Linked DNA regions of Homo sapiens: regions 1 and 2 are each linked to region 3. The links come from fine-mapping of genetic effects on gene expression. A gene starts in region 3. Each other region holds a variant in brackets. All regions are shown on one strand. Distances are from middle to middle.

Region 1 (10,588 bases), 35 kb before region 3:
AGGAGGGAGGCTGTACCCTGCAAAACTACAAGGGTGGAGCTGCCCAAGACCATGGGAACCCACCTCTTGCATCAGCGTGCGTGACCTGGATGTGAGACATGGAGTGAAAGGAGATCATTTTGGAGCTTTAAGATTTGACTGCCCCCCTGGATTTCAGACTTGCATGGGGCTTATAACCCCTTCATTTTGGCCAATCTCTCCCATTTGGAATGGCTGTATTTACCTAATGCCTGTACCCCATTGTATCTAGGAAGTAACTAACTTGCTTTTGATTTTACAGGCTCATAGATGGGAGGGACTTGCCTTGTCTCAGATGAGACTTTGGACTGCAGACTTTTGAGTTAATGCTGAAATGAGTTAAGACTTTGGGAGACTGTTGGGAAGGCATGATTGGTTTTGAAATGTGAGGACATGAGATTTGGGAAGGGCAAGAGGCAGAATGATATGGTTTGGCTCTGTCCCCACCCAAGTTTCATCTTGAATTGTAGTTCCCATAATTCCCATGTGTTGTGGGAGGGACCTGGTGGGAAATAATTGAATCATTTGGGTGGGTCTTTCCCATGCTATTCTCATGATAGTGAATAAGTCTCATGAGATCTGATGCTTTTATAAAGGGAATTTTCCCTGCACAAGTTCTCTTCTCCTGTCTGCCACCATGTGAGACGTGCCTCTCACCTTCTGCCTTGATTGTGAGGCCTCCCCAGCCATGTGGAACTGTGAGTCCATTAAACCTTTTTCTTTTGTAAATTGCCCAGTCTTGGGTATGTCTTTATCAGCAGCATGAAAACGAACTAATACACATGTCATACCATTGCTTTGACAACAACCCATGAAAAATACATTATGATTCCCATTTTATAGACAGGAAAGTGGAATCTCCGAGAGGTAACTTGTGGGTCACAGGGCTATTAAATAAGGAGGTCAGGATTCAGACCCTGAATTTTACATTCCAAAATCTGCACTCTTCCCACACACCAGTATCCTCCCACTGGCTCTCAATATATTAAAATATTTTTGCTCAGAAAGGACTCCGTATTTATTCATGACTGTTGTTTCTTTCCTAGCTGTGCAAAGCCATGCTGAGCACACTCAAAGTTAAGCCTCAGTAAACATGGAGGGTTTCTTCCGCCCGCCCAGCTTCTTTCAACATATGGCATCTGCCCAAACTGGATCTTATCACAAAGTCTCTCATGACAAATATTCCCCAAGAGAGTCATTCTTCAACAAGCATGACTCTATCTTAATACATTTTGTATAACTTTTGATTAGTTTTCAAATCAAAGGCTATTAAAAAGAATCACAACTCTCTGAGAACTGGGAAAAAGTTATGCCTGGATAAAAAGCTGCTTAAGAGAAAGTAACAAGAAGAAGGAGTAAAAGAACACTTGTTTAGATAAAGAAGTCTTGTGACTTGTGCCAATTTCATGTTTACAAATAGTCTCAAGGAAAGAGGGCATTGTGAAGTCTTCATATCTGCAGAAGAAACTTCCTGATATTAAAAAGCTTGGCTCATAGGAATATACCGGAAAATCTCACAAAACCATGTCAACTGACAGGCAATTGACAAAAAACAAAACAAAACAAAACAAAAAACCCAAATCCAAAAAATACTGAAAACAACGGAGCAATAATGCTGAAAAGTAACAGTTTTAGGGAAAATAATTAAAACCACAGAAATACGAGGAAGAACTTAACCAATCCCTTATAACCTAAGAGAATCAATGACTTATTACAGATTTTCCAGAAACATTAAATGTGCTCATATATGCAAAGGGACAATGACTCAAGCATTCATTCTGAATTCTTTTTAAAAAGGACAATGGAGACAAAACAGCAAACATTATCTGTCTCTGTAAAGTCATGATGATGGTGACCTCTGCCAAATTTTGCCTGACTTCTCACCCTTGCTTAGATTCTTCTCCTTTCCTGTGTTGCTTTCCCTACTAGTAGTTTATGGTTTCTCTTTAATAAATCACTTGCACACAAATCATGAGTTCAAGGTCTACCTCTGGGGGAATCCAACCTAAGACAGGGATCTTATAAATAATATGACAAAAACAGCTCGTTACAACTCTAAAGGAGTTAGGAATCACTGCAATTTGATACCTTGCTGTTTATTCACTATAGTCTTATCATAGCAGAAATTTATCTCATACGTAATTAGCAAACCAAGTCTCCCACATGGAACTATCTTAAAATAACTATTGTCTCAATTTCCTGGCCCATTAAGAAACAAGAATGTGTTTTGCTAATCTGAAACCCAAAGAATACCTTGCTCGAGTATTAAAAACATCAGAAAGTCTTGTTATCAATATGATAAATTACTCAGAAAAAAACAGAGATGGAGATAGAATCAGTACAGCAAGAAGTAGGAAAGCTGCATTTCTTTAAAAAACAACCAAGATAAAATGCTGGGCTTCTTAAAATATTTGGTATCACAATGCAATGATAGAATTGACTTGATGGAAGAAAATTGGGCATTCATACAAAAAAACTGATACTTTAGAGAGAACATGTTGCTCATGAAAAATTCTTTAAAACCAATTCTGCTGCTGAATATGGACACATACTAGAGGGTTTCCATTTTAGTTTTTATAAATGTATAACTGAAGTTTATTTCTAGAATGACTCTAAATTGAATTTGTGCAAACTAAATTATTTTAAATGTGGTGGGGAAGGGGTTATATGTTCAGCAAAGGCAGTTATCAGTACTTACTTTTTCCCATTTTACCTTTTTAGGTGATACTTATGGGGATTCACATTTTCACAGATAAAGGTTATTGCAAAACACATTTCGAGCAGTTTCCCTAGTTGTCAGTATCAGTACATGATACAAGAAATGTTGTCACCATTTCTTTGAAATTTGTTGAATATGAATATAAATGTTTCCTTTATGTGTTGTTCTTTCCTTAAATGCTTCACTGAAAACCATCACTGGCAGTTAATTACAAACTTTCAGATTCTACGAAAGGAAGGTGAGATTTGTGATAAACAATAAACAATCTGATTCACAAGATGCATGGTCTTAATTGAATCAATTTTCTCAGATTGCCGGTTTTTAAAATTAAGGAAATATTATTCAAAATATGAATCACAATATAAGAGGATTTAAGAATGAGAATGTTCATGGAAATAAGAATAAATAGTTAAGAAACACGTTGCACATTCATGTTATATGGAAAAATCTTATGTTATGAAATCTTATCCAGCCAATAAAAATGTTTACAAATAATTTTTAATGACATGAAAAATGTTCATGAAATAATGCAAAGCAAAAATAAAGAATAAAATTTACATATATAGTATGTATATGTAAATTTCATGCAATTTCCAGCTATATGAAAATATGTATATATATATGTATATATATATATATATATATATATATATACATACATACATACATAAAAGTTACAGGAGGGAAATTCAACACAAATGGAGACTATTTACCTCTGGGAAGTGGAATTCTATGTGAGACTTTAATGTTCATATTATATGGTTATCTAATTTTCTATAATAAGCCCATTGATTCTATTAATGAAAATATGTACCAGACAATATTAAATGTTTAAGCAGATTGAGGTTTATGATATTTTATACAGTATGTATATGTAAATTTCATGCAATTTCCAACTATATGAAAATTGCATATATATATGTGTATATATATACACATAAAAGTGACAGGAAGGAAATTCAACACAAATGGAGACTATTCACCTCTGGAAAGTGGAATTCTATGTGAGACTTTAATGTTCATATTATATGGTTATGTAATTTTCTGTAATAAGCCCATTGATTCTATAATGAAAATATGTATCAGAAGATATTAAATGTTTAAGTGGATTGAGGTTTATGGTATTTTAAAAGTTGCAGACATTGATGCCCTTTATAGATCCTAGCACAATACTGAGATTAAAAACTTTAAAAAATTGCTTGCTGTGTAAGAATTTTATTAATTTCTTTGCATTAAATATTTTCATTATGCTTAATTACTCTGCAATAAAAGAACAATTATAAAAATTATGAAATGCATGTTAGCCTAATCTTATTATAAATTTAAATTGGTTAAACCATAACTTCTATTAACATAGGAACATTCTTATAAGATTACTGTTGATATAAAATGGTCACTTGCCTGAAATCTAAAATATTAGTGGTGACATTTTTATTAGTGAAGTTTTCACTTATATCATTTTCTTAGGAATAAAATACCTATTTCTCCAAGGATATAGTTGATATTAGATATTCCCTTATGAGCTGACTTACCTTTGAGGGGATGGGTCTTCTTTACTCCCCCTTCCAGCCCCAACATTCAGCCAGGTTCTGGATTACATGGGCTTTATTGTTCTGTTTCTGCAATTTGCATTGAAAGGGAATGGTAGTTTCTTGGGATGTGAGTGCCAACTAACCCCTGCTGCCTAGAGACATGACCTCTATACCAATTCTGGCTAGAGACAATACACAAGGAAGGGAAAGGGTAGTAAAATGGGAATATGGGGAAGAGTAAAAAATATACAGAGGATCCTTGAACAACATGGGTTTGAACTGCCCAGGTTCATCTATATGTGGATTTTTAAAAAATAAACAAAGTTGGATCTCCATAACCTTGAGTTCTGCATTTGCAACCAAATGAAGATTGAAAACACAGTATTTGTGGAATATGAAACCCACATTTACAGTGGGCCAACTCTCCCTATACACAAGTTCCACAAGGCCAACTTTAGCCTTGAGTATGTGTGGCTTTTGGTATACACCCGGGCCCTGAAACCAATCCCCAGCCTATACTGAGTCTCTCTTTATATAGACTCTCTCCACTTATATATGTAGAGAGAAAACCTATCTCTATATATATTTCTATATATAGTCTAGGTATTTGAAATAATATATATCTTATATGAATATAATATAAACACGTTAATAATTTGAAATAATATAGATCTCTATATAGAGACATATGTAGATACAGATAATAGATATAGTCTCAGGTAACAATCTTACTTATGACTATGGTGATCTATTATTTCAAACCCCCAAGAAAATGGTCTGAAATAGCTAGAAGAGAATAATTAGAATGTTTCTAGCATAAGGAAAAGATAAATACTTAAGGTGATGGATATCACAACTACACTGATTTGATCTTTACAAATTATATAAATGTATGAAATTATAACATGTACCCTGAAAATATGTACATCTACTATGTGTCAATAAAATAAAATGTAAAAAAATATTAAAAATGATCTGGCAAGTTTATTTATTTGGACAATCCAATGTTTAACATGTCTCTGAATATCAGGTATTTGTGGCCCTGTGCCTATGGTGCACCTTACAAGTAACGCTTCCTCGGAGAAAAATGCTCTAGAATCAAAATTAAAGTTAGTTTCCCTAAATGTAATTATATATTGAAATTGGTAAGGTCTTTGCTAGGAAAACGTCCAAGGTTTAAGGCAGATCTGAATATTTTTGTTCATTTTTCTGTGACTCATTAAGCATTTGAGTTCCATTAGGGAGCCAGTATGTTCATGCTGGGAGTTTCTGTTAATCCGTTAAGAAGCTTTGTGGCAATTCTATTAGGATTAAACCAAAGTGTTTACCAAACTAGAAGTCCAGTCCAACAGTTCTCCTGGTGTTTTATGGGGACAATGAGTCTTTAGGCTTTTGAGAAGGTCAAACTAATTTTGCTCTTAGTGGTAGAGTGATAAGATTTGGAAAAACAAACAAATGATCAAACATTTATAGTGTATTAAAAGGGTATTATTGCTTGGCGCTTAGACTCCCTGACTTCCAGGCTGAATGTATAATTCTTGAAATCACTTCAAATCCATTTGAACCAAATATTGAACTTATCTGCAGGATTCCAAATAAGCAATTTGAATGCACGCTCCCCTCCTGTTTCTCCTTCCTTCTCTTCTCCTAGCACTGAAA[T/A]GACAAAATCAGTCACATTAAGAGAAAACCATAAGGTGAATGGGAGTTACTAGGCTGGGGTCTGTGGTCTCTTGGAGATATTAAGTTCTGGCTTATTTAGTGGCGCATTTCAACTGAGCCAGCTTTACACAAGAAACCAAAATACATTTGCTGGCGAGGATGCAGAGGAAAAGGAACTTTCATACACTGTTGGTGAAAATGTAAATTAGTACAACCACTATAGAGAACAGTTTGGCAGTTCCTCAAGAAACTACAAATTGATCTACCATATGATCCAGCAATCCCACTCCTAGGTATATACCCAAAAAAAGGAAGCCAGTATATTGAAGAGATATCTGCACTCCTATGCTTGTTGCAGCACTGTTCACAATAGCCAAGATTTGGAAGCAGCCATCAACAGATGAATGGATAAACAAAACGTGGTACATATACACAATGGTGTACTATTCAGCCATAAAAAAGAGTGTAATCCAGTCATTTGCAACAACATGGATGGTCTGGAGATCACTATGTTAAGTGAAATAAGCCTGGTACAGAAAGACAAACTTCGCATGTTCTCACTTATTTGTGGGATTTAAAAATCAAATCAATTGAACTCCTGGACATAGATAGTAGAAGGATGGTTGCCAGAGGCTGGAAAGGGTAGTGTGGGGCTCGGGTCGGGGGGGGGATGGTTAATGAGTTAAAAAAATAGAAAGTATGAATAAGACCTACTATTTGATAGCACAGTGTGGTGACTATAGTCAATAATAACTTAATAATATATTTTAAAGTAAAGAATTTATTTGGATTATTTGTAACTCAAGGGATAAACACTTGAGGAGATGGATACCCCATTCTCCATGATGTGTTTGTTTCACATGGCATGCCTGTATCAAAACATCTCATGTATCCCATAAATATATACACCTACTATGTACCCACAAATATTTAAAACTTTTTTTTTTTTTTGAGATGGAGTCTCGCTCTGTCGCCCAGGTTGGAGTGCAGTGGTGCGACCTCGGCTCACTGCAACCTCCACCTCCCAGGTTCAAGCGATTCTCCTGCCTCAGCCTCCCAGTAGCTGGGACTACAGGCGCATGCCACCACGCCCGGGTAATTTTTTGTATTTTTAGTAGGGATGGGGTTTTACCGTGTTAGCCAGGATGGTCTCGATCTCCTGACCTCATGATCTGCCCGCCTTGGTCTCCCAAAGTGCTGGGATTACAGGCGTGAGCCACCACGCCTGGCCTAAAACATTTTTTAAAAAATAAAAAAAATTTTTTTTGAGAAAAAATTTGTTTAAAAAATTCACTGCTAGAGCTGAATAAAACTTTGATTTGGATAGAAAGAAAGGAGAAATGTTATGTTGTAAGGCAACCAATAGAGTTTACCACTGAGGCAAGCCCAAGATTAGGTGCCAAAGAAAACATGTGCAGATATGTTTTCATGTATGGTGGTCAAATGGAAATGATGTACCCTTAGTGAGAATAAAGCTCACAATATACTGCTGAAATGAATATTCACTAATAAGTTGAGGATTTTTAAGTACAAGTCAATACCACAAAGTAGATATTTAACAGTATTTGTTTTTAGGTGTGAGAGATCAAGTAGAGTAAAAATTTGTTAATGAGATTTTTTTGGAGTAGATATTATGACCCACGTACATGTTAGTCTGAGTTCTTTTGAAGTAAATGAAAAGCAATCTAAGGTACAAAATCAAAATAATCAACAATGATTTCCATTTTGTGCTTCGAAACTGTCAGTATTTTTATCCATTTGCAATAATTGTTGATAGCTCAATTTTATTTGCAACATTTCTGCTTTTTCTTCATTGCAGTAAAGCCGTCAATAAATTTGAGTGACTTGCTCTCCATAGAGAACCTTAAAAATATTCTTACCCTCTAACAGTGAAAACCTGTGTCTCGCTATCTCCTACCACTCCTTCCTGCTTAGTCTGAAGGAGAAGAATGTATACAAATATATTTCAGCCTCTTGAATGAACTTAAAATGCAATGGTAGTAGACAGATGCCTATTCCCCAGCTGATGATTTATGCCTGGAGGTAATTATCAGGCTTGCCATGTGCCTTCTGGGTATGGAGCACCTTTACGAGTCCCCAAAGACCAGTCCCACCTTAATCAATGCCACACTTTAGTGGGTATGTGGACTGTGAAGCACATTTGGGTGTCAGGCCTAAAATATTGATTCAGTACAATTTTTACGCTTTCTCCGTCTTCTACATTTTTATCTCAAAGGACAAGCTATTCAAACAAATAAACACACAAACGAACAATAAATCCACTGCCTCCCAAACTCCACTTTACTAACTTTTCAGATAAGTTTATTCTTTGTAATCTTTTTCAGTCTAAAAAAAATTTTGGTTTCCATTTCCTTCTGAAACTGATTAGTACAGTCTGAAGGTGGCTTTGTGGCTCATGGTAAACAGCCAAAACATAGTTGACCTATATTTGCCAATGTGAAAAGTCCTTTTCACATTTCAAAGGCAAGCACAAACGTTCACCTTTTCTGTGAAACCATTGCTTCAGTTTCTATCTTACTTGTAATTAATTACTTCTTCCTTTAGACTCCCCCCAAAATATCCATTTGTACCTCTATAGCATGATGAAAACTATTGTAATAGCTAGCACCAAAGTTTACTGTTGTAATAAAATCTGTTACCCATCTAAATTTCTTGTATTGATGGTTTTGGAGGATATCAAGGAAAAAGGACTAAGTTCTCTGGCCTGGCAAAGAAAAGAGTAAGGAATAGCCATAAGTGGTGAGATGCAAGGAGAGAGGAGAGTTCAACAGAAGCGGGGGTACAGAGTCAGGATGAGCTATACAATTCACAAAAGTGTGGGAACGGGGGCTATAGCCAGCTTTATATAAATTCCTGAGACAGTTAATTATTTGTATCAACTTAACTGGACCACTGGGAGCCCAGATATTTTGTTAAACATTATTTCTGGATGTTTCTGTGAGGGTGTTTCTGTATGAGATTAATATTTGAATTAGTAGACTGAGTAAAGTAGGTTGCCCTCCCCAATATGGATGTACCTCGTCTAACCCGCTGAAGGTCTGAATAGAGTAAAAAGCTGAGTAAGAATGAATTTTCTCTCCCTGTCTTCAGGCTGGGACATCAGTTTTCCCTTGCTACTGACTGCCAGACATGGATTGGAACTTATTGCATCAGCTCTCCCGGTTCTCAGCCTTTGGACTCAGATTCAAATTATACCATCATCTCTCCTAGGTCTGAACTTCTCAGCCTCCATAATCATATGAGCCAATTCTTTATAATAAATATTTTTATCTATCTATCTATCTATCTATCTATCTATCTATCTATCTATCTATCAGAAAAATGTTTGCAGAATTTAATTGCCATGCAGACCCACTGCGCTAAAGTTAAGGTACCCTGAACTGATTTAGGTTGTACTTAAATTCATAATAAAATGGCTATTCAGAGGAGATAAAGGGAGAAAAGCCAACAGAAAGTTATATTATCTGACCAAGATGCTTAATCTTGGGCTTCTTTCTTTAGCTTGGACTTTTTTCTTTACCAGTATGTAAACCACAATGACTGTGATAAAAATTGTTGGGAAGATCATAGCTTGTAAATCAAATGAACCAAAATTCTTTATTTTAATGCTCACCTTGCAGACTTATTATATTTCCCCTGAAACGAACTTTACTAAATAGTAATAGCTTTGGTAATACAAACTTCATAGTGTCTCAGACTGGGTTTTCTAGAAGCGAATTCTGCTATGTAGATTTGTGTGCAAGCGACTTATGTAGTGCTCTCAAGAGAAATCTATAAGGGAGTAAGGGAGGCAGGAGAAGGCAGGGAGAGGGGCTAAGCAAGGGTGTGATTTTTAGGTGAAGTCCAGCCTCAGCATCATCCCACGGGAAGCTCTGGAGCTTAAGTTGCATTGCAGAGTCTGTTCTGCCTTGAGGCAATGGATTTCTGTACCCGTCAACCATTGGCTTTGGGCTACCCAGTTAACACTCAAGTTTACCTGGCACTTGTGTCTCTTTAATCCTATGGGAAACTCCAGTCACCCGAAGGTAATTTTGTACTTCAAGTCCTTAGAATAAAGTGCATGAAAACTAGGAGGTGAGAGGGACTCCAGGGGATCTGAGTAGAGCACTGATAGTGTCTACTGCAACTAGCAAATCAAGGGCACCACAAACCAACTATAGGGCTAATGATTATAACCAACAATTTTTGAGTGCTTACTGTATGCTGGCATTGCTCTAAGCTGTTTGTAATATTAGCTTATTTAATCCTTAGAACAATCTTATGATGTCACTGATATTATTTCTGTTGTCAAATGGGGAAACTAGATTTATCCATGGAAACATCTTGTCTAAAATGATACAGATATTTCATGCCGAAAGTAAGATTTGAACTCTGGCTGTGTGATTCAACAGCATACACCCTCAACATCATGCCACCCACTTTGGAATGACTTCTGAATACACCAAGCTGTTAAGAGTGGTGAAGCCTGAGTCATATTACAAGAACTCAGAACAAAATGAGACAACACATCTAATGCAGTTAATGCAGATGGAACAAGGAGACAAGACGTAGCTTTAGAAAATCTCTTTTCTGTAAAAGTATCTCTTGGATTTATAAACAGCCTTTCTTATGCTATTCTCAAAAAAGTTTGAAGAGCCAG
Region 2 (10,588 bases), 71 kb before region 3:
TTTTATTTCCTCTGTGTAGAATGCTCTTCCTATCTTTCTTTACCTGGCCAAGTCCTCCTCATTTCTTAAAAGCTGCTTAGGGATCACCTCAATGAAGCTTACCTGAATCCTTTGAAAGGATAAATGCCTATCTTTGGTTTTCCCATAGCACGCAGAACATCTTTTTAAAATCGTATTACTATATTGTATTTAAATTATTTGTTTAGTTATCCCAGCCTTCCTGCTAAATTGGAAGCTCATAAAAGGGTGGAACAGTATTACTGTCTAAGAACTTCCACATTTACCATCTGGCATATATAGTACTAGGTCAATAATGTTAACAGAGCTGTGTGTTGAATTCATTTGTATGAATAGAATGCATAGATGACCAAGTCACATATCTCTGCTCTTCAATGATCTGTAGAAGAAGAAAGGCTATCTATTGTATCTTAGCTACCCTGAGAGTGGTAACATGTCACATAATACATATTTAGGTAGCAGTGAGTAAAAGAGCAATTTATTAAATTGGAGGAGGGGAAGGTGTTAGATTTAGTTCATAGAAATAGAGCATGCCAAGACAGTGAATCCATGGGAAACAATTGGAGAAACAGACAAAACAGCAAGGAGGAGGCTTCAGGCTTACAATCATTTGATCACAGGAATGAAGCATGGGTGTGGCTGAATTACTGAGCCTCCATACCTTCTCACATTATTGACATTATAATGAGGAAAGTCACACATAATATAAAGTAAACAGAAATCAGGGGCTGAACAGTGGTCTGACAAACTGCGTCTTTGAAGGAGGTCTGAGAGCAGTTTGGGAGGGAGGTTGTAGCAGACTCTCAGTGTCCCTGCCCATTTGCCTTCAGCACTTACCTCTACCCACAGAATCTTGGTTACTGGGAATACCCAGAACTCCCTGCCTGAGGAGTTTTTTGACTCATGGGAGCATGGAGCCCCTGTGAACAGGGCAAGTCGGAAGTGCCAGAGAGTTAGTGCCCTAGAAGCAGCCCTCAATAAATTTTGAACAAAGAGCTGCTGTAAAAATACCCCAGATTCCCTATCTCTTAACTGGATAACTCTGAGGTACATTCAGCACGGTTTTCTAGAATTGGCCAGTGAGATTGAGCTCTAGTTGCCCACAATAACAACTGGCTTAATGACATATCCTTTTTGCCTGCCTTCCCTTCCCTGGCTCATTTCCCCACTCTCCTATCTCTGTTTCCTTAGACCACATCCTGAACATATTACTTACTCTTGAATCCTTATTTCAGGATTGTCTTCCAAAGGAGCCCAAATCAAGTGCATATTTGTGCATATGGTGGGCAAAGGATGAGTTTAGAAAAGGATGGCTTTGAGTTCTAAATAGAAGTTTCTAGCTAAAGTTCTTTTTTTTTTGCAACTTCAGACTGTGTATCTCCCACTGATAAGGTCACAGCATAACAAAATACTCTGGTGAATTCATGTTTCCTCTCCTGTTTTATCATGTGTCAGTTGCTCCCTGGAATTAAAATTCACTTTTCTCAGGCCACCATGGTTTTGCGAATTGCTTTAGGCTGTTAGCATTTGCTACAGCTTGTGGCTTTGATTGCCCACCCCTCGCTCCTCCTAAGGAGGGCTGAGCTTACCCAAAGGAGATTAAAATGGAAAAAAAGGAATTAGCAGTGACAAAGGAGGGAAAGGCACAGGAAAGAGGTGAAAGTAATTTTCCTTTGGAGGACAATGCTCACAGCCTTTATCCTGTTGAGTCACCGAACGATCATTATAGAATAAATGTACATACTTTCAGAGATATGCTATACATTTGAACATTTTTTTAAGCCTGGTAAGGAATGGAGTTTGCTAATAGCATTAGCAACTAGCTATGTAATGTTTTATCTAATACGCAAAACAGACCATTGTTGACTTTGTGGATGTGGTCCTGACTCAGAGTTAAACACTCCCACCTTGCTATATTCAAATTTCTAGTAAGAGGCTGCCACCTAATTGGCACCTTAATTGCAAAGATGTCAATGAAAATTACATTCAGGACAGGAGAATAATTTTATTTCTGATGAAAAAGAAGGCATCATTTAGTGATAGAATGGGTTTAATAAACTCACTTTACTAAAATAATAGATATGAGGAATGGATGATTCTTTAAATTCATGATAATATCCAAAGTGCCATATTTCCTGGACAGAGAGAGAAAAAGAGAGGGGCAGTGCTTGAAATGAGGACAAGAACTAGCTAAGGGCTGGTTTGAATGGTGTGGTCTCTGCTTTTGGTGGATCACAGCCAAAGCAAAGCAGCTTGTGAAGCTTCACAGAGACTGTGACCATCAGTCCCAGATCCACTGGAGAGCAATTAGGAATAACTGGATGAAACTGGTGTGCGTGGAGTGGAGGAGTGGGAGGGCAGAAAGATGAGAACCTAGTTGGTTACGAGACCAAACAAGGTCCCACCGTCTGTTCACATTCCATGTAGATATTGCCATATTCTCCAATGACATGATAGAAACGCTACTGAGAAACAGCATCATTCTTCCTCCATTTTTACTGAACAAAATGCATTTTAGGTTCAAAGTTCTAGTTTTACTCTGTTTTTAAAGATAACATTGTTGGCATCTCCCTCAGATTCCTTTTACCAGCTGTGCATGCTCCTCCCTAGATCCTGAGTTCTTTTCTGCTAATGGATGTCACCTGCCACCTTCAGAGACCTTCCCTTTAGCCCTGGAGCTGGAGGCCTAGAAATGCCCTGGAGTTTGTCTCCCCCTCACCCCTATAGAAGAGTTGTCAGATAAAATACAGAACTCGCAGTTAAACTTGAATTTCAGATAAAAAAATTAATTTTAAGTATAAGGATGTCCCAAATATTGCATGAAACATACTTATACTAAAAAACAGTTGTTAGTCTCAACTATACATACCTGGGCATCCTGTATCTTCACTTGCTAAGTCTAGAGACTCTATTCAAGGGAGGCCATGGTCAATGACTGACTGGTATAGGAGTGCAATGGTCCAGCTCCTCAATGTGGAAAAAGCTCAGGGATATAGTTTATGCTCTAGAGTCTCCTACAGGATCAGGCTGAGTCCTCAGACCACACTGGAGCTAGCACCATTGTTTAGCTTCTTCCTCTTCTCTATTCTGTCTCTCCTACTCCCTTCCTGGTTTCTCTTGGAATCACTTGATTAATAATAAATCACTTGCTTATAAATCCTTGTCTAGGGGTCTGTTTCTGGGAGAGCATGACTTAAGTTAGAGATCTTGTAAATCATACCACAGTGACAGCTCATCACAACTTTGTAGGGATTAGAAATCACTACCTTGAATAATATTGTTTATTAACTACAGCTTACATTTATTTTCCTAAAAATATTCTTTGTCTCATGTGTCAAGTCCCTAGCAACCGGTGAACATCCATTTGACAAGCTCTTCTGAGAGGCTGCTAGGGCTTCTTTAATCTATTCATACTTTCCCTTGCTTTGAAACTACTGAAAAGAAAGCCAACTGCACATCTGATAAAACATCATTTACACTCTTATATGATGTGAGCCTTAAAAAGGAATGCCGAAGCCCAGCTGCTCCATGAAAATACCAATGATCCATGAAAAAATATGCATTGTAAGGGAAAAAGGGGAAATATTAGTAAGCTGGGTCAGGCAATAGACCAAAGAGACTGGGATCTTACAGTCTCTTCAGATGATGGAAGTTAAGAAAAGATGGGCTACCTCCTGCCTCAATTTTCTAAGGACTCATTTTGAAATAATGGAACTCATCTCACTGTGGCAGTCCATTAATGAGTCATCACTGTGATAAATGCACGTTCAAGGGAAAGGACATTTTGCTCTATTGATCTCCTGAGCATCTTTACTCACTTTCTTAGTGGCAAAATATTGTTCTTAACATGCTTAAGCCAAAGCACTCCTGGCTACTTCTGACTATGTGTAAGCCATTTCAGGTATTTACAATTTAAGATAAAGTCTACTTAGGGACTTTCTTTCAGCTTACAAAAAGAACAAGAAGCTCCTGGGTCAATATACCAGTACTTGGTGATGCATGTCCATATGGCTTTATAGTTTTGGTTATTTATGCCTAGTAGTAGATAATACACAAAGAGTAAACTGAGGCAGATAGAGTCCATTACGGTATAAGCACTGATACTGGAGACCATGCTCCCTATTATTCTTGTTGAGTAACTGTAAGACATATAACTTAAAATAGCACAATCTAATTTTGTTAGGCTGGCAGCCTTTTTTTTTTCTTTAACAAGGAACATTGGCCGGGTGCGGTGGCTCACGCCTGTAATCCCAGCACTTTGGGAGGCCGAGGCGGGTGGATCATGAGGTCAGGAGATCAAGACTGTCCTGGCTAACACGGTGAAACTCCGTCTCTACTAAAAATACAAAAAATTAGCTGGGCGTGGTGGTGGGCACCTGTAGTTCCAGCTACTCGGGAGGCTGAGGCAGGAGAATGGTGTGAACCCAGGAGGCTGAGGTTGCAGTGAGCCGAGATTGCACCACTGCACTCCAGCCCGGGAGACAGAGCGAGACTCCATCTCAAAAAAAAAAAACAAAAACAAAAAACAAGGAACATTGTCTTTCCTCTTTTTGTATATATTGCCTTTCTTAAATGCTAGCCTTAAGTGTTAGCCAAGGTGGCTCATCCATGGAGTCCCAGGAGGCTGAGCAAAAAGAACACCAAATTAGTTGCTTACTGTCTCTAAATAATTTTGACCACTACTATCTCAGAGTCAGGAGTCCAACTATGAAAAACAAAAATGAGATTTATTTATTCATTTTTTTTTGAGACAAGGTCTTGCTCAGTCACCCATGCTGGAGTGCAGTGGCATGATCATAGCTCACTGTAACCTCAAATTCCTGGGCTCAAGCAATCTTCCTGCCTTAGCCTTCTAAAGCATTGGGATTATAGATGTGAGCCACTGTGCCCAGCCAAAATGAGATGTTTATAGAAAGTTTTGTGGGACACAGCATGAAGCTACCTCAATGGAAGACAAATGAAACTATTTCAAGGATAAAGGCAACCATAGCTTAACAGTTTGTAATCATAAAAGGGAATATATCAGCATTCTTGAAAGTTTGGGAAATACTGAATACAGTATTAATATTTTGATAATGGGTGATAAATGACTTTACGCTTCCTTGTAATTTTTTTTTTCTGTATGGTTTTACATAAAGTAACGCTTGCATGCAGGACTGTTATAGGGACAAAAGAAACAGCTATGGAGAGTCACCATGAAAAAATAACCCAATAGTCAAAATAGTGTCCCCTCTAAGGAAATTTTTTGGTCTGCATTCTAAAATGGATTACAGGGAAGAATGCAATTCTGCTTGCATTCTTCCTAACCTAAGGAGAAAAGAAAATCTGCTA[C/G]TTGTACTATCTGGCTTGCAAAATTACCCCAGACACAAGCAAACGAAAGGGAGTTAACAATTGGACAAACCAGTGAAATATGAAGGTGGATATTTTTTTCTCATTGCTAGCTTTGATAATACACTAATCATGAAAATAAGTCTTGACTATGCTCCAATAGGATACAGAAAATCACGCCTGATATAAAATGACTATGCTCTGGGCTATCCTTTGTGTTTCTCATTATTTTTCTTGACAAGTGATAGATCTGTGGATAGGACATTCTCAATTGGCTCCACTGATAATCTCCTCCAGTTAGAAGAGGTGGAACTAGAAAGGAAGTGAAATTTATGAAAAAGTCTCTGAGGAAATTCAAATTTAAAATTATTAATAATTTTTTAAAAGCTGCAAGGAATGTATTTGACACTCAGAGGTTTCTTTTTTTCAGGAGCTTAAATAGAAAAAGCTCAAGAAGTCAATGAAAAACATTTACTTGCCCTGTACATTTCCATTTGAACTGCAGCCCCAAGTGCCAGAATATAAAGTTTCATCCCTGCAGGTGACATAGGCAATTCCAATAGCTGTAATTCTAGAAGTAGGGTACGTGCTTTCCATATCAACTAAAAAATATCTTCCTGAATTTTCACATTATGTGTTAGGAGTTCTCCAAGTGGTAATATTTCACAGATACCTAAAATCCCCCTATGAATGGGAATATATCAACCTTAACCTCAGGCTACATCATTGCTCAATCTGTATGACTCTTACCTGTCTGAACCAGGAGGTGATTTTAAACTCCGAAAATGTTGACCGTCTAAGTCCAAGCTATAGCTCCGCCCAGTGTCAGTTTTGGGAGTTATGATTTCTCCTCTGGTTGCCGATCTGAACTTGCTAAGAAGAAATCTGAAATTATATATATGTATTTAAAATTAGATAAGAAAGAAAGCATTTAAAAATATCATTTCAAGAATACAATTTCTAGTACTTTTAATAATAAAGGATTCTTCAATAAAGCAGCCTTAGGGCTGAGAGGTTCTGGAGAGTTCCCAGTGCCTCTGCAATACAGTATCAAGGGTGATAATGGGGAAGGTTACGCCGTTCTCTCAAGACCGTACCACTTGCTGGTAGGTCACTACTAAGCAAAAGACTGCCTATTCTGAGAACTCAGCACTGTCACCTGAGAAAGAAGATGCATTCCCTGAGTTGGGCCTGTTTGCAGGAATAGTGAGAATAGAGAGTTTGAACTCCCTTTGCTCAGAGAGGGAAGCCAGGATGATCCTCTTGGACAAACTGAGGTAGCTGCTTATTAGACTGCAGCTCCATGAGAGCAGTGACTCTGCCTTTCTTGTTCCTTGACAGATTTCCAGAGCCTAGAATGATGCCTGGCTTATACTGGAATCCAACCAACTCTTGTGGAACGAATGACTAAACTCATCTTTATTATCTTCCATGACATTTATTCTTGTGCCTCATGTTGGATAAAATCTGATTACCTTCCAATTTCACTAAATTATTTGGGGTTTAAGCAGAAACAGCCTTTTAGGAACTTAAAGTCCTGATCCAGGATACCATGTGCCCAAAACATGGGTGTTTCCAAATGTACTTGAATAAGAAAATCAAAGCTATATTCCTTTTTGTAATGGCATTGGGAGATACACTTCATTTACATTCTACAGTTTTCTAGAGGAAAACATGGATTCCAAAGGTACTGGCACAATCTTAATAGAATCTGCCATGTTGTCTCTGTTTCAAAGACTCCTGGAATAGTGTCATTGTCAAAGCATCTGAAGCTTTAATCTACTGGAAAATTACATTTTTTCTTTGGTGAGAATAGCACTTAATATAATGTCAAGGTATGCTGCTCTGAGAACCACCTCATGCATGTCCTCTACTTAAGGTATCTCCTCTGCCTGGAGTCACTCTTCCTCCGTTTTGTGATCCTGAACCCCATTTATCTCCTCCTCAAATCTCATGTACAATTTGATGTCTTTCTGGATGACTCCTATACTCAACTGGCACTTATTGTCCACCTGCTTATTTATATGTACTCAGTAATTTATAACCTTAGGATATCTCTTGTGGTGAACACCCTCCTCTGTTTTAGAAAGGCTTTTAGGAAGCTCACATTGCCATCTTAAATTTTCCTGCAATTCTTTTATACTTAGTAACTTTTCAGGTGTGTACCTTTTCTCCCCAAATAGATGTTATATTCCTTGATGACTGAGAACAATCAGAATCTAAGGCTCAGCCCAGTGCTACAATGGTTTCAATGATTCAGAATTTGCATAATTGATTGTGATGGTGAGTTAGTTACTGTCTCCTATCTCCAAGTCCACTATTCTGTAACCTACTCTATGATGCCTGAGCTGGGGTCTGCAAATGACAACTCCTAGAGGCATTTGTGGGCTCTGAGTTACTTATTCAATCAAGCCACTGATTGTTTTTGATGAGTCAGGTGCCATGCTAGATACTGCAACACAGAAGCAAAGAAACCACTGGTCTACCACTAAAGAAGCTTACAATTAAGTGTGTGCATGTGTGTGTGTGTGTGTGTGTGTGTGTGTTGAGGGGGTGTCAGAGTGCAATATGATTGGTGGTGCAAAGGCACAAAGCATTGTGGGTGACCCAAAGAGTGATAAATGAACTCAAGATGGTAGGAAGGATCAATACATAGGATAGGATATACAGGATACTCTAGGCTATCTTTCCAACTCATCTCTGCTCATCAATGAAAACATGGTTTGTCATGAGTGCTTGAGTTAGATGACATTTAGATTGTATTCCTACTGACAGCCCAAGATTCTAAAAGAACCCTAGACATTTTGTACAGCCAGATAAATCTTCTAACACTAATGCCCTCTCACTTTGCATTCTACTGAGAGAATGAAGCAATGCTGTCTGAAAAGGACCATAAAGTTAGGCAGGCATGGTGGCATACAACTTGTAGTACCAGCTACTTGGGAGGCCAAGGCAAGAGGATTGCTTGAGCCCAGGAGTTCAAGGCCAGCTCAGGCAACATAATGAGACCCCATCTCAATAATAATAAAAAAACAGAAAGGACCATAAAATGACTTGGTGCACATTAGAACTCTCACTACTTCAGTCACAAAAACTGGCCAATAGCTGCATGAGAAACAAAAACTGAAAAATGCAGTTTCCTTTTGGTCCTTATAGCCTATATTTTGGGATCCACTTTTCTCCCTTGAAAGAAACTTCTTGCTCCCTTATGTACCTCCCATTCCTATTCTCAGTACTTGGCATCCATATTCTGTATTCATTTACTGAACTAAGTTACTGTGGTGGCCAAATGTGACTTTTTTTCTTAAGGAAGCCTGAATTTTAAATAGGGAATATGGTGCTTTAAGCTCAATTAATAAATCTTTATTTTGGATAAAATTATATATCAGCACACAGGTTGGAGGGGAGGAGTATTGACATTGTACAACAGAAATTGTTGTCACCTCTTTATAGACTGATCCTGGCATGAAACTTTCTACTTATAAGTAATGGGAACCATATAGTGCAAGACTGGATATGTCAAATGAAAGGAAAACTCTTCTGTGCTTAGGTCAGACAGGACTTTTATTTACTTATTGAAAATTATTAAAACTGCATTTCCTGAGGAGAATGATAAGAAAGTGTTACTTTGTTTGAGTCTCTGACCTCCTCTGGGTCATTGAAGTGACATCAAACTTGAAAAATTAAGGAGTCTTCATTTCAGAGGTGTCTGGAATAAAGATCAAAAATTCCCTCAGAAAGACCATGTCTTACCCCTTTCTCTTGGGCCCATCATGGCTGGCCTTCTTCCCAGCAACAGGTGAAGTGTCTGACTTTTCTGCATCCTGGCGGGTTTGCTCTTGGCTCTGTACTTCTTCAGCTCCTCATTAACAAACAATCAGAAGAGAAATTTACATACAAAATGGCCAGAAATGAGAGCAAATTTATATTCTGCTTTCACTTTCCCAGATTAGCTCAGGGCAAGGAAGTCTATAATAATTGGCAATGCCATTCCCATCCCAAGTTTTTCTGTCACACAGTTAGTTCTAATTTGTTGAGTGTTCTAGAGTTAACTGAAGACAAAGATCCTGAACTCATCTGTGGGAGGTTTACTGAGATAACCTTCCTAGGGATGACTGCATCAGCCTTCTGTTGATATTTTTAGAGCAGGGGAACATGGTCTCCTAAGATCTCCAAATCCCTGGAGACTGAGTTCTAGCATGAGGTTGTAGAAATGATGTCCTAATTTCTGGGCATATAAGCCACACTTCCTGGGAGGGTGGGCATCTGTGCAAATATATTGTGACTTGAGGAACTGCCTACATTCTGGAAGGTACTGGGGTTTGAGTGGAAGAAGAGGCCATGGCTGATTGCCTAATTCTAACTGTACTCCACACCATCTCTCTGTAGTATCGGATCTGTGTGACCTATGTGGAAAAGCCTTTCCTTGCTAGTGCCACACCCAGAAGTACCACTGGAATCAGTTCCAAGCCTTCTCGCCATATGTGCCAGACTTAAATACAAGGGCACTTGTCTCCTCTGGATGAAAGATGAGATAAGCCTAGAAACAGGCTGAAAGATGTTTCTTCCGCTTTTACTACACCATATACGAGAAACATGCTCCCAATCACAAGGTTTACTCCATCTTTAATTAACTAAATTGTAATTTGAATGCACCAAAAGGCACTGTCAAGGTAAAGTGTTATTTTCATTTGGTGCCAGTATTCATTCAGTAAGACTATGCATTTCAAGCCATTTAGCATCTCTGGCTCCTTCCCACCAAATGCCATTGACTCACCAGTCACTGTGACAACCAGAAATGCCCCCCTTGCCTTTCCAAATGCTCCCATTTTGAGGGAGGGAGACAAGGTACATATTATCAATCTTTGATTGAGAACCACTGGATTTAAAAAGTAACATTGAAAGGAAATCGGAAATAAATATTGTTGAAAAATCAAGGATTGCTTTCACAATGTGAATCATTTAATTCATCTGTTTTATGTTACTTTAAGTGTTTAGTAAAATATTGGATGCATTCAGAAAGAGAACTGTCTATGATGGAGACAAATGGTTTCTTTGAAAATCTTAGTGGGTGAGATATATGGAAAATCATTGTGAATTTTGTTTTCTACTGACTTCTTCTTGTCTTGTATGAATTACGTATCTAGATTTCATGCTACCAAGTTGTGAAATGCCCTAAGGGATTCAAGAAACTCATTTATGCTGATTAACTACATAACATAGAGAAGTTATTTAGTTAGCC
Region 3 (10,588 bases):
CGATCTTGGCTCACTGCAAACTCCGCCTCCTGGGTTCACGCCATTCTCCTGCCTCAGTCTCCCGAGTAGCTGAGACTATAGGCGGCAGCCACCGCGCCCGGCTAATTTTTTGTATTTTTTTTAGTAGAGACGGGGTTTCACCATGTTAGCCAGGATGGTCTCGATCTCCTGACCTCGTGATCCACCCGCCTCGGCCTCCCAAAGTGCTGGGATTACAGGCGTGAGCCACCGCGCCCGGCCAGCAGTATAACATACTCTCTAGGAAACAGAGAGCATCAGTATTTGAGGCCTTTGTTTGATGCTCAAATACAGAATAATGGATGAGAAAAACCAGACTCTTCTTGCACAGCATTACTGGACATTGGATTACTTAGTATAAATCTTATGTAAGTAATTTTTATCAATTATGAAAAATATCAAACATTTATTACCACTTGTCAAGGAAAACTGGAGATGCAACATGTAACAGCAGTCTAGGACTCCAGAGCATGCCCTTTTAACCAGATTCTAAAACACAGAGTTGCTGATATGATAGCACTCAGTGCTTGAGAAAATTGCCTCTGGTGCTGGGCTGCTTGGATTTGAAATCTGGTCCAATTACCAATTAACCTCTATGATCCTCAGTTTATTCTTATGTAAATGGTAGTGGCGATGATGTTGATGATGATGATGTTCATCTCATGAGGTTCTTGTGAAGATTAAATGAGTTAAAAAATTTAAGGCACTTAGAACAACCCTTAGAATATTCTAAGTATTATTATTATTTTTCTTTCTGACATGAAACAATCAAACAAACTAATCTCCAAGTGTATTAGTAAAAATACACACTTTGGGCAATAATCCTATAAATTGTGAGGAATGACATTTCTAAGGGCCCTTGTCCTCTGAAATGCAATAAGCATATGACTGTTAAAGAGACGGATTTCTAGAATATAGAGGACAGTTGAGTCAGCTTTCTCAACATTTGGACATTTATTTGGATACTGACATTTTGATTCCATGATATACTGACATATTTCACAACACAAAAGGGCAATCTAACATTTGTTCTTCTTTAACAAAAAGAAAATGTGTCTGAAAGACTGTTATCCCCATTTTTGTGCCCCGAATGGTCGCTCAGAACGTTCATACCTCCATCATTTGCTCAGTTCTGCCCCAAATGGCAAGATCATTCTTTTTTTTATCTGAATCATGAGGGATTCATCTAGGTACATGTGTCCAGTCTGTAGCTCTGTGCTTGCATCCTTGCTGTACCTAATCCCCATCTGGTGGCTCAGTTCTAATACCTGGCTTTCACCTCGTAACCACACTTAGCCTCATAGGCCCCTACCACCTCTTCCACATTTGCAGAGCACTTACTATGAGCTAGGCACTATTTTAAGTATTTTACATTTACTAAACGTTCTAATCCTACAACACTCTTATCAGTAGAAACTATTGTTATCCCCAATTGACAGTGAGGAAACTCAGCAACAGGAAAGCTAACTAAGTTTTCTCAATTTCATGCAGCTGGTAAGTAGCAGAGCTGAGATTCAAACTCAGGTCATCTGACTGCAGAGTCAACACTCTCAACCCCTGCACAATATGATTTCAATAGTTAAGACCTGGGGTTTTGGTCTCTGCTACTGAGTTATTCTTCCAGCAACAAATCTTACTTTAATATCTATATAGTTCTTCATAGTTCAAAATGATTTCCTCTCCATGACTATATTTGTTCCTGTGGCCACTATATGAGATAGAATGAGTCTGAGGAAACTGTGGTTCACAGAGAGTGCACAGGGGGCAGTGAATGGTAGAATCAAAACTTAAACCTGGCTCTTTGGCTATGTTCTTTTCACTACCCCAATGATTCTGGGGCTTAGAAAAAGAAGATATCCATGAGGTGTGGACTTTCTGATGGAGATGGGGCCTGACCAAAACCTTGAATTGTAGGTAGCTCTTAGACTGAGGGAAAAAAGGATGAGAAAATAGAGAATAAAAGAAAAAAATAACAGAAAAGGGAGATGAGAGAGGATGGCTTCTAGATACATTATAATTAAAGAAATGAATGGACTTGGTAGTGGTTTGGATATTGAGAGCAAAGGAAAAGTTAGAAGCAAAATTGACTCCAAGATTTCAAATGTGAGAAACCAAGAGATCATTAATGCCATTCACAGAAACAAATGAAATGAAAGGGGAAGTGGTTTGACATAAAAGCTGTGAGTTTGGCTACAATCATGATGAATGTCGAGTGACCCTTGGACATACAAGTGGGAAAATGTATAGCAGATGGAAAAGATAAGATGTGGAAATGGAAGTCTTGGAGGTATCCACTTAGAGGTGATATTTAAAACTAAGGGTTGATAAGAAGTTATAGAGAAAGGCAAAACGTAATAGGTTATAGGCTAAATAAATGCTAAACCTTTGAGGGAAACCCAAACTTAAGGAAGAGAAAAGGAAAAATAGACAAGAAGGGAAGTGGTAGAAAAGCAGTTGAATAAATAGTATAGAGTCATGGACAAGAAGGAAAGAGAAAATTTAAGAAGTAGGAATTGATCATGTGTGTCACATAGAGCCAAGGGGATGAATAAAATGAGAATTTGGAAAAGTATTCCTTATAGCCCTTATCACACTTGTAATGAATTATTTGGGTGAGTTAACACCCTTCCTAACTAGACTGGAGATATATAAAGGCAGACTTAAGTGTTCCCTACTGTAACTTCAGTGCTCAGCAATGCCTGATGCATAGCTGTCACTAAATAAATATTTATTGAATGGATGAATGAATACATAAATAAATGAATGTACTTGAATTTCCTAGCAGCACTACAGGTGACCCTTGGAAGTACAGTGTCAATAAAGTGATGAAGATTGATTTTATGTCATAGGGGAATTTGAAAGAAAGATTTTAAAAGAGAAAGTGAGGCAGTAGGGTATGTTTTATTAATCACTTCTTAGAGAAATGTTTTTGTTAAAAGGAGAGAGAGACCAGATCAAGTGAATTTTTTATCCCAGTACACTACATGTTTATTATATTTTGTTCCTCTAGGAGCTCCTCCCTATTTTAGATAATCTTTCAGAACCTAAGGTAACCACAGCGGTTGCTAACTCTGCAAGTAACAGAAGCACCATCTGCTTTTTTGCTGTCTTCAGTAAAATCAAAAGTCCATGGGCTAAGCAAGATGGAAGATGTAGAGAAACAGAGGTCAAAGGAAATGATGATACTCCCCACAGAAAGAGATAACCAGGAATGGAACGAGGTTGGAGAGAAGTTTTGTGAAATCATGGAAAATGTGTGAATGTATATAGAGGGGTGAGAGAGAAAGAGGATGAGAGACCACAGACAAGTAAGATATGAATGTACAAAAGCATATTTACAAGTAGATTTTAAGTAGAATGTATTAAAGATGATTAGCTAAGTGCTTACGCAGGATGGCAAAATAGTCATAAGATACATCATCATATAATAGAGCTTAAGTAAAACGAACTGCTCATTTTACATATTAAAGCTACATTTCCTTTTCCTTCCCTTAACATACTAAATAATAATAAGGAAGTAATTTCAACAAAAATACTAAATGGGCCTCCAAAAGAAAAGAGGTAGAAGCTCAATAATTTTATTCACTAAACCTATCAGAAGACTTTAACAAATCTGAATAAATAGAAGGATAACATAGCTAATACCCAAACTTAAAATAGCAAAGAATTTCAGGAAATCATAAATACATAGAAAAAGCATGATTCAACAACTAAAAGAGCAGTAAGACATTTTCTCAGTTATTAGTTGCCCACATGTAAATATGCATGTATATGTGGGTATGTACATATATATACTGAGGGATGCAAGGACCAATTTAAGGATTTCACTAGAGTCCAAACAAATGGCTTCATGCATTTAAGACCTAGGGTATGAATTGTAACACTTTTGTGTGTAAGCTGTTGTCCAAATAACATATAAACAACTTATTACAAAATGAAAAAATTATATACTTAATTCCTGTGTTTAAAATACTTTTTAAGGAGGCTACTACTGAAGTAGTACTTCTAAATGCATTATTACATGTAAACAATATTTTATACTATTTTGAATGCTATAAATATATAACTCCTGTTTTCTCCAGGCATATGCTTTTCTCCAGGCATACACATATACTTGGAGCAAAGAGAAGTTATATATTAATAGTTGTAAAATTACGTTTTTCATTTAAATGAGGAAGACAGTATTGGTAATTAAAACAATCTACATTAAGGAGAAATTTTTTAAACCCTGATGCATCTTTTCAGAGTATATTAATGTTCACAGTTAATATCGCATTTCTGTAAGCTGTTACAGTATCATATTCATGTTGAAATTATTCCAGGTTTTTCAGACTTTATTAATCCTTCTACTGAATTTATATCCATACTGGATATTTGTCCATATCAAAAATGGAACTGAATGTAAAAACAATTAAATAATTCCAAATGAAACATCTAAATTTTCTAATAAATGAAAGAAATTCAGAGCAAAAGGACAATCTATGTTATATAGAGATGTGAGAGGTTTATATAGAGAGGTGTGAGAGATTTATAGCAAAATGATGCAACACTTCTGCTGTGAATTTGATTTTTTTATGTCACTAGAATGCATATTTGTTCCTGGAGGCACTCACTCTTCAGTAGAACCTAGTGCAATGCTTCACTTCATAGATAGAATCAAGTGTTAATAACAAAAAGATACTTATATTTCTCTCCTCAATCCATTAAACTCATAGCTACCAATGGCCAAAATGTCCCTTCTGTACATATTTCTCCCTTTTTTACTGTAAAATACAATATCAAATGGTGGAAGGAGCTGTTTTCTTCCTGACCAGCAAATCCCACTACTCCCCTACCACACACAAAATACAGAAATTAAGAAATCAGATATCACACTGGAGATCCCTAAACGCATTAGTCTTACCTTAATCTGAAGGTTAGAATGTTTTTATGGGCTTATTTTTCTCTCAAACACACAAACTGTAGAATGCTGGACTACTTGACCCTTGTGAACTACTTGGAGCAGGAACTTGAAAAACCAGCCTCTCATATTCCCACAATCTATTTACACATTGAACACACCCAGTAGCACAGAGTAATGTTTATCTGTTGCAGACAGCTATTTCAAGAAGAAGGCAGTATCTCTAAAGCTGAGCTTTCAAAAAGGAATGTCTCTGTTGATCAGCAGGGGAAAGGTAACAGGTTTCATCTAAAGCACATTTTAAACATTTTTTGACATGAGGTATTTTTTACACCAGTGTTTTAAAGGTGATTCACTCTTTTAATATTCTTCTACCCCTGAAAATCTCTATTCTTAAAAAACCTGGGAGAAACGTGATAACAATGAACACATATGTGCCAGGCACTGTTGTAAGTGCTTTACATATATCCTCTCCAATAATTCTCCAAATGTGTTAGGTGTATAATATTATTATCCCCATATTACAAATGAACAAACTAAGTAGTCTGCCCACAGTCACCCAGTTAGTAAGTACTGGAGTCAAAAGTTAAATCCAGGCACTCCATAACCATAGTCCAGGTATCTAATCATAGCACTGTGCTATGTATGTATGACTTTTAGAAGACAAATGTGTAACAGTATGTGATTGCTCAGCTGAACATTAGAGAATGAGTGAGGTTTTCTCAGTGCTTGTATGGTACTGAATCTTTAGTTGAAGTAAGTGAAATTTTTGTTAAGATCACTTCTGCCAAGGTGATTACCCATTTATGTTACCATAGCCAGGTCCCTTTTAGCTACAGTGGGGAACCCCAAAGGTGGTGTCCTGGAGAATCGAAAACGTGAGTCTAGCTTGAAGTACCAAGAGAGTTATTACTTTCTTATGTTAAAAAACTCATACAAAAGAAGTCAATACAACACCTTTAAAAAGTTTAGAGATACATGTTTTGTTCCATTTTTTTCAGATTGGATGATTACTTTTGATCTGTCTTCAAGCTCATTTGATGCTAGCCATCTCCAAACTAATGTGAGCCCATCTAGTGTGTTATTAATTTCAGTTACTATAATTTTTTAAGCTCTAAAATTTCCATGTGGTTATTTTTATAGTTTCCATTTCTCTGCTGAAATTCACTATCTGTACATTTATAAAGATCATATTTTCCTTTCATTCTTTGAACCTATTTTCTGTTTGTTCTTTGAATACATAATAATTGATTTAGTCTTTTTCTATGAAGTTTAACAACTGGACATTTTTGGGTCTGTTTCTACTGATTTTATGACAATAGGTGATATTTTCTTGTTTCTTTGCATGTTGAATTTTTTTATTGCATATTGGACAATGGGGATCATATAGTGTAAAGACTCTGCTATCTCCCTCTGAGGAGTATTAATATTTGTTCTATTAATATTGGCATTTCCATAGAATTGGTTTGGTTTTGCTAATGTAGTTATGCAGAAAGTCTAAGGTCCTTTCCAAGCCTGATGAATTTGGGAGATCAACCTACAAATTCTGTCTCCCCTGCAGATCTTGTAAGGGCTGAGTTTTAGGATTTTTTATTTGTAATTTTTATGGAAAAATAGTAGGTGTATATATTTATGAGTTACAGAGATATTTTGATACAGGCTTGCAATATATAAAGATCACATCAGGGTAAATGGGGTATCCATAGCCTCAAGCAATTATCCTTTGTGTTACAAACAATACAATCATACTGTCTTCATTATTTTAAAATGCACAATTAAATTATTATTTTTACTATAGTCACCCTGTTGTACTAAGAAATACTATGTCTTATTCATTCTTTCTATTTTTGTACCCATTAATCCTCCCTACTTCCCCCCAGCACCTCACTACCCTTCCCAGCCTCTGGTAACCATATTTCTACTCTCTATCTCCATGAGTTCAATTATTTTCATTTTCAGCTCCCACAAGTAAGTGAGAATATGCAAAATTTTTTTTCTGTGTCTGGCTTATTTGACTTAACATAATGACCTTCAGTTCCATCCATGTTGTTGCAAACGACAGAATCTCATTCTTCTTTATAGATGGTAGCACTCTATTGTGTATATGTACCACAGTTTCTTTATCCATTCATCTGTTGATGGACATTTATATTGCTTCCAAATTTTGTCTATTGTAAATAGTGCTGCAGTAAACATGGGAGTGCAGATATCTCTTGAATATACTGATTTCCTTTCTTTTGGGTATATACTCAGGAGTGGGATTGCTGGATCATATGGTAGCTCTATTTTGAATTTTTTGAGGAACCTACAAACGGTTCTCCATGCGATTGTACTATTTAAATCTAAGACCTCAAACTATGAAACAACAAAAACAAAACATTGGGAAACCTCTCTAGCACATTTGACTGGGCAAGGATTTATTGAGTAATACCCCACAAGCACAGGCAACCAAAACAAACAGTGACAAATGGGATCACATCAAGTTAAGAAGCTCCTGCATGGCAAGGAAACAATCAACAAAGTGAAGAGCCAACCTACAGAGCAGGAGAAAATATTTGCAAACTACCAATCTGACAAGGGATTAATAACCAGAATATATAAGGAGCTCGAATAACTCTATAGGGAAAAATATAATGATCTGATTTAAAAACTGGCAGGGGATCTCAATAGACATTTCTCAAAAGAAGACATACAAATGGCAAAAAGGCATATGAAAAGGTGCTAAATATCAGTGATCATCAGAGAAATGCAAATCAAAACTACAATGAGATGTCATCTTACTCCAGTTAAAATGGCTTATACCCAAAAGAGAAGCAATAACAAATGCTGGTGAGGATTTGGAGAAAAGGGAACACTTGTACACTGTTGGTGTGAATACAAATTAGTACAACCACTCTAGAGAACAGTTTGAAGGTTCCTTTAAAAACTCAAAATATGAACTTAAAGTAGTTTTTTCCAATTCTGTGAAGAAAGTCATTGGTAGCTTGATGGGGATGGCATTGAATCTATAAATTACCTTGGGCAATATGGACATTTTCACGATATATATTCTTCCTACCCATGAGCATGGAATGTTCTTCCATTTGTTTGTATCCTCTTTTATTTCATTGAGCAGTGGTTTGTAGTTCTCCTTGAAGAGGTCCTTCACGTCCCTTGTAAGTTGGATTCCTAGGTATTTTATTCTCTTTGAAGCAATTGTGAATGGGAGTTCACTCAGGATTTGGCTCTCTGTTTGTCTGTTATTGGTGTATAAAAATGCTTGTGATTTTTGTACATTGATTTTGTATCCTGAGACTTTGCTGAAGTTGCCTATCAGCTTAAGGAGATTGCCAAGTCAATCCTAAGCCAAAAGAACAACACTGGAGGTATCACGCTACCTGACTTCAAACTATACTACAAGGCTACAGTAACCAAAACAGCATGGTACTGGTACCAAAACAGACATATAGACCAATGGAACAGAACAGAGCCCTCAGAAATAATACCGCATATCTACAACTATCTGATCTTTGACAAACCTGAGAAAAACAAGCAATGGGGAAAGGATTCCCTATTTGATAAATGGTGCTGGGAAAACTGGCTAGCCATATGTAGAAAGCTGAAACTGGATCCCTTCCTTGCACCTTATACAAAAATTAATTCAAGATGGATTAAAGACTTAAATGTTAGACCTAAAACCATAAAAACCCTAGAAGAAAAACTAGGCAATACCATTCAGGACATAGGCATGGGCAAGGACTTCATGTCTAAAACACCAAAAGCAATGGCAACAAAAGACAAAATTGACAAATGGGATCTCATTAAACTAAAGAGTTTCTGCACAGCAAAAGAAAACTACCATCAGAGTGAACAGGCAACCTACAGAATGGGAGAAAATTTTTGCAATCTACTCATCTGACAAAGGGCTAATATCCAGAATCTACAATGAACTCAAACAAATTTACAAGAAAAAAGACAAACAACCCCATCAAAAAGTGGGCAAAGGATATGAACAGACACGTCTCAAAAGAAGACATTTATGCAGCCAAAAGACAGATGAAAAAATGCTCATCATCACTGGCCATCACAGAAATGCAAATCAAAACCACAATGAGATACCATCTCACACCAGTTAGAATGGCGATCATCCAAAAGTCAGGAAACAACAGGTGCTGGAGAGGATGTGGAGAAATAGGAACACTTTTACACTGTTGGTGGGACTGTTAACTAGTTCAACCATTGTGGAAGTCAGTGTGGCGATTCCTCAGGGATCTAGAGTAGAAATACCATTTGACCCAGCCATCCCATTACTGGATATATACCCAAAGGATTATAAATCATGCTGCTATAAAGACACATGCACACGTATGTTTATTGCAGCACTATTCACAATAGCAAAGACTTGGAACCAACCCAACTGTCCAACAATGTTAGACTGGATTAAGAAAATGTGGCACATATACACCATGGAATACTATGCAGCCATAAAAACCAATGAGTTGATGTCCTTTGTAGGGACATGGATGAAGCTGGAAACCATCATTCTCAGCAAACTATTGCAAGGACAAAAAACCAAACACCACATGTTCTCACTCATAGGTGGGAATTGAACAATGAGAACACATGGACACAGGAAGGGGAACATCACACTCTGGGGACTGTTGTGGGGTGGGGGGAGTGGGGAGGGATAGCATTAGGAGATATACCTAATGTTAAATGAAGAGTTAATGGGTGCAGCACACCAGCATGGCACATGTATACATATGTAACAAACCTGCACATTGTGCACATGTACCCTAAAACTTAAAGTATAGTAAAAAATATATATATTTAAAAAAACTCAAAATAGAGCTACTATATGATCCAACAATCCCACTGCTCGGTATATAACTAAAAGAAAGGAAATCAGTATATCCAAGAGATATCTGCACTCCCATATTTATTGCAGCACCATTTATAATAGACAAGATTTGAAAACAACCTATATGTCCATCAACAGATGGATAGAGAAAATGTGGTACATATACACAATGGAGCACTACCAAGCCATAAAGAAGAATGAGATCCTATCATTTGCAACAACATGGAAGAAACTGGAGGTCATTATGTTAAGTGAAATAGGCCAGGCACAGAAAGACAAATTTCACATGTTCTCACATATTTGTGGGAACTAAAAATTGAAATATTTGAACTCGTGAGAACAGAGGGTAGAAAGATGTTTACCAGAGGCCAGGAAGGGTAGTAGGGTGCTGGAGGGGAAGTTGGGAGGGTTAATGGGTGCAAAAAATAGAAAGAATAAATAAGACATTAATTCTTTCTAGTTTTTCTATGCTAGTATTTGCTAGCACAACAGTGACTATAGTCCAAAATAATTTAATTGTACATTTTAAATTAACAAAGAAACTATAACTGGATTGTTTATAACACAAAGGATAAATGCTTGAGGTCATGGATACCCCATTTACCCTGATGTGATGATTACGTATTGAAGACCTGCATCAAAATATCTCATGTTGATATGGGAGGAGGGCAGGGAAGTGCTGGGTAGGGGAGGGTGTGGTCTGTGGCTAGGGCTCCACCCCTGGGCCTGTGACCAGGGACCTAGGTGAGGACAGACATTTTTTCCTGCCCAAATGTTGCATTTCCCAAGACCACGCTGGCCCACCACACCCCTATCCTGTGCTTATAAAA

Alleles and levels. Positions count from the first base shown, and alleles are read on the strand shown. Sizes are in standard deviations (SD) of each study's normalised expression.
For the expression in caudate of the gene that starts at base 5,037 in region 3, T is the low allele of the variant in region 1 and A is the other (small effect, 0.18 SD a copy in GTEx).
As copies of C replace G in region 2, the expression in adrenal gland of the gene that starts at base 5,037 in region 3 goes up (moderate effect, 0.40 SD a copy in GTEx).

The links. PIP is the estimated chance that this variant, and not a neighbour inherited with it, causes the effect. A credible set is the group of variants that fine-mapping cannot tell apart.
Region 1: its variant is the best candidate, but not a certain one, in a credible set for the expression of SYTL5 in caudate (GTEx, PIP 0.80).
Region 2: its variant is the best candidate, but not a certain one, in a credible set for the expression of SYTL5 in adrenal gland (GTEx, PIP 0.81).

What each region holds. Positions count from the first base shown.
Region 1 is chrX:38,036,465-38,047,052 of GRCh38, reverse strand. The region is part of intron 2 of SYTL5 (synaptotagmin like 5); the gene reads right to left. Among named protein-coding and RNA genes, the nearest start is that of MIR548AJ2, 18 kb to the right of the region's middle. The variant T/A (reference allele first, on the strand shown) is at 5,929.
Region 2 is chrX:38,072,210-38,082,797 of GRCh38, reverse strand. SYTL5 (synaptotagmin like 5) reads right to left here. Exons shown (of 17, transcript NM_138780.3): 5 at 9,100-9,208; 6 at 6,097-6,231. Among named protein-coding and RNA genes, the nearest start is that of MIR548AJ2, 54 kb to the right of the region's middle. The variant C/G (reference allele first, on the strand shown) is at 5,350.
Region 3 is chrX:38,001,002-38,011,589 of GRCh38, reverse strand. SYTL5 (synaptotagmin like 5) reads right to left here and starts at 5,037. Exons shown (of 17, transcript NM_138780.3): 1 at 4,922-5,037.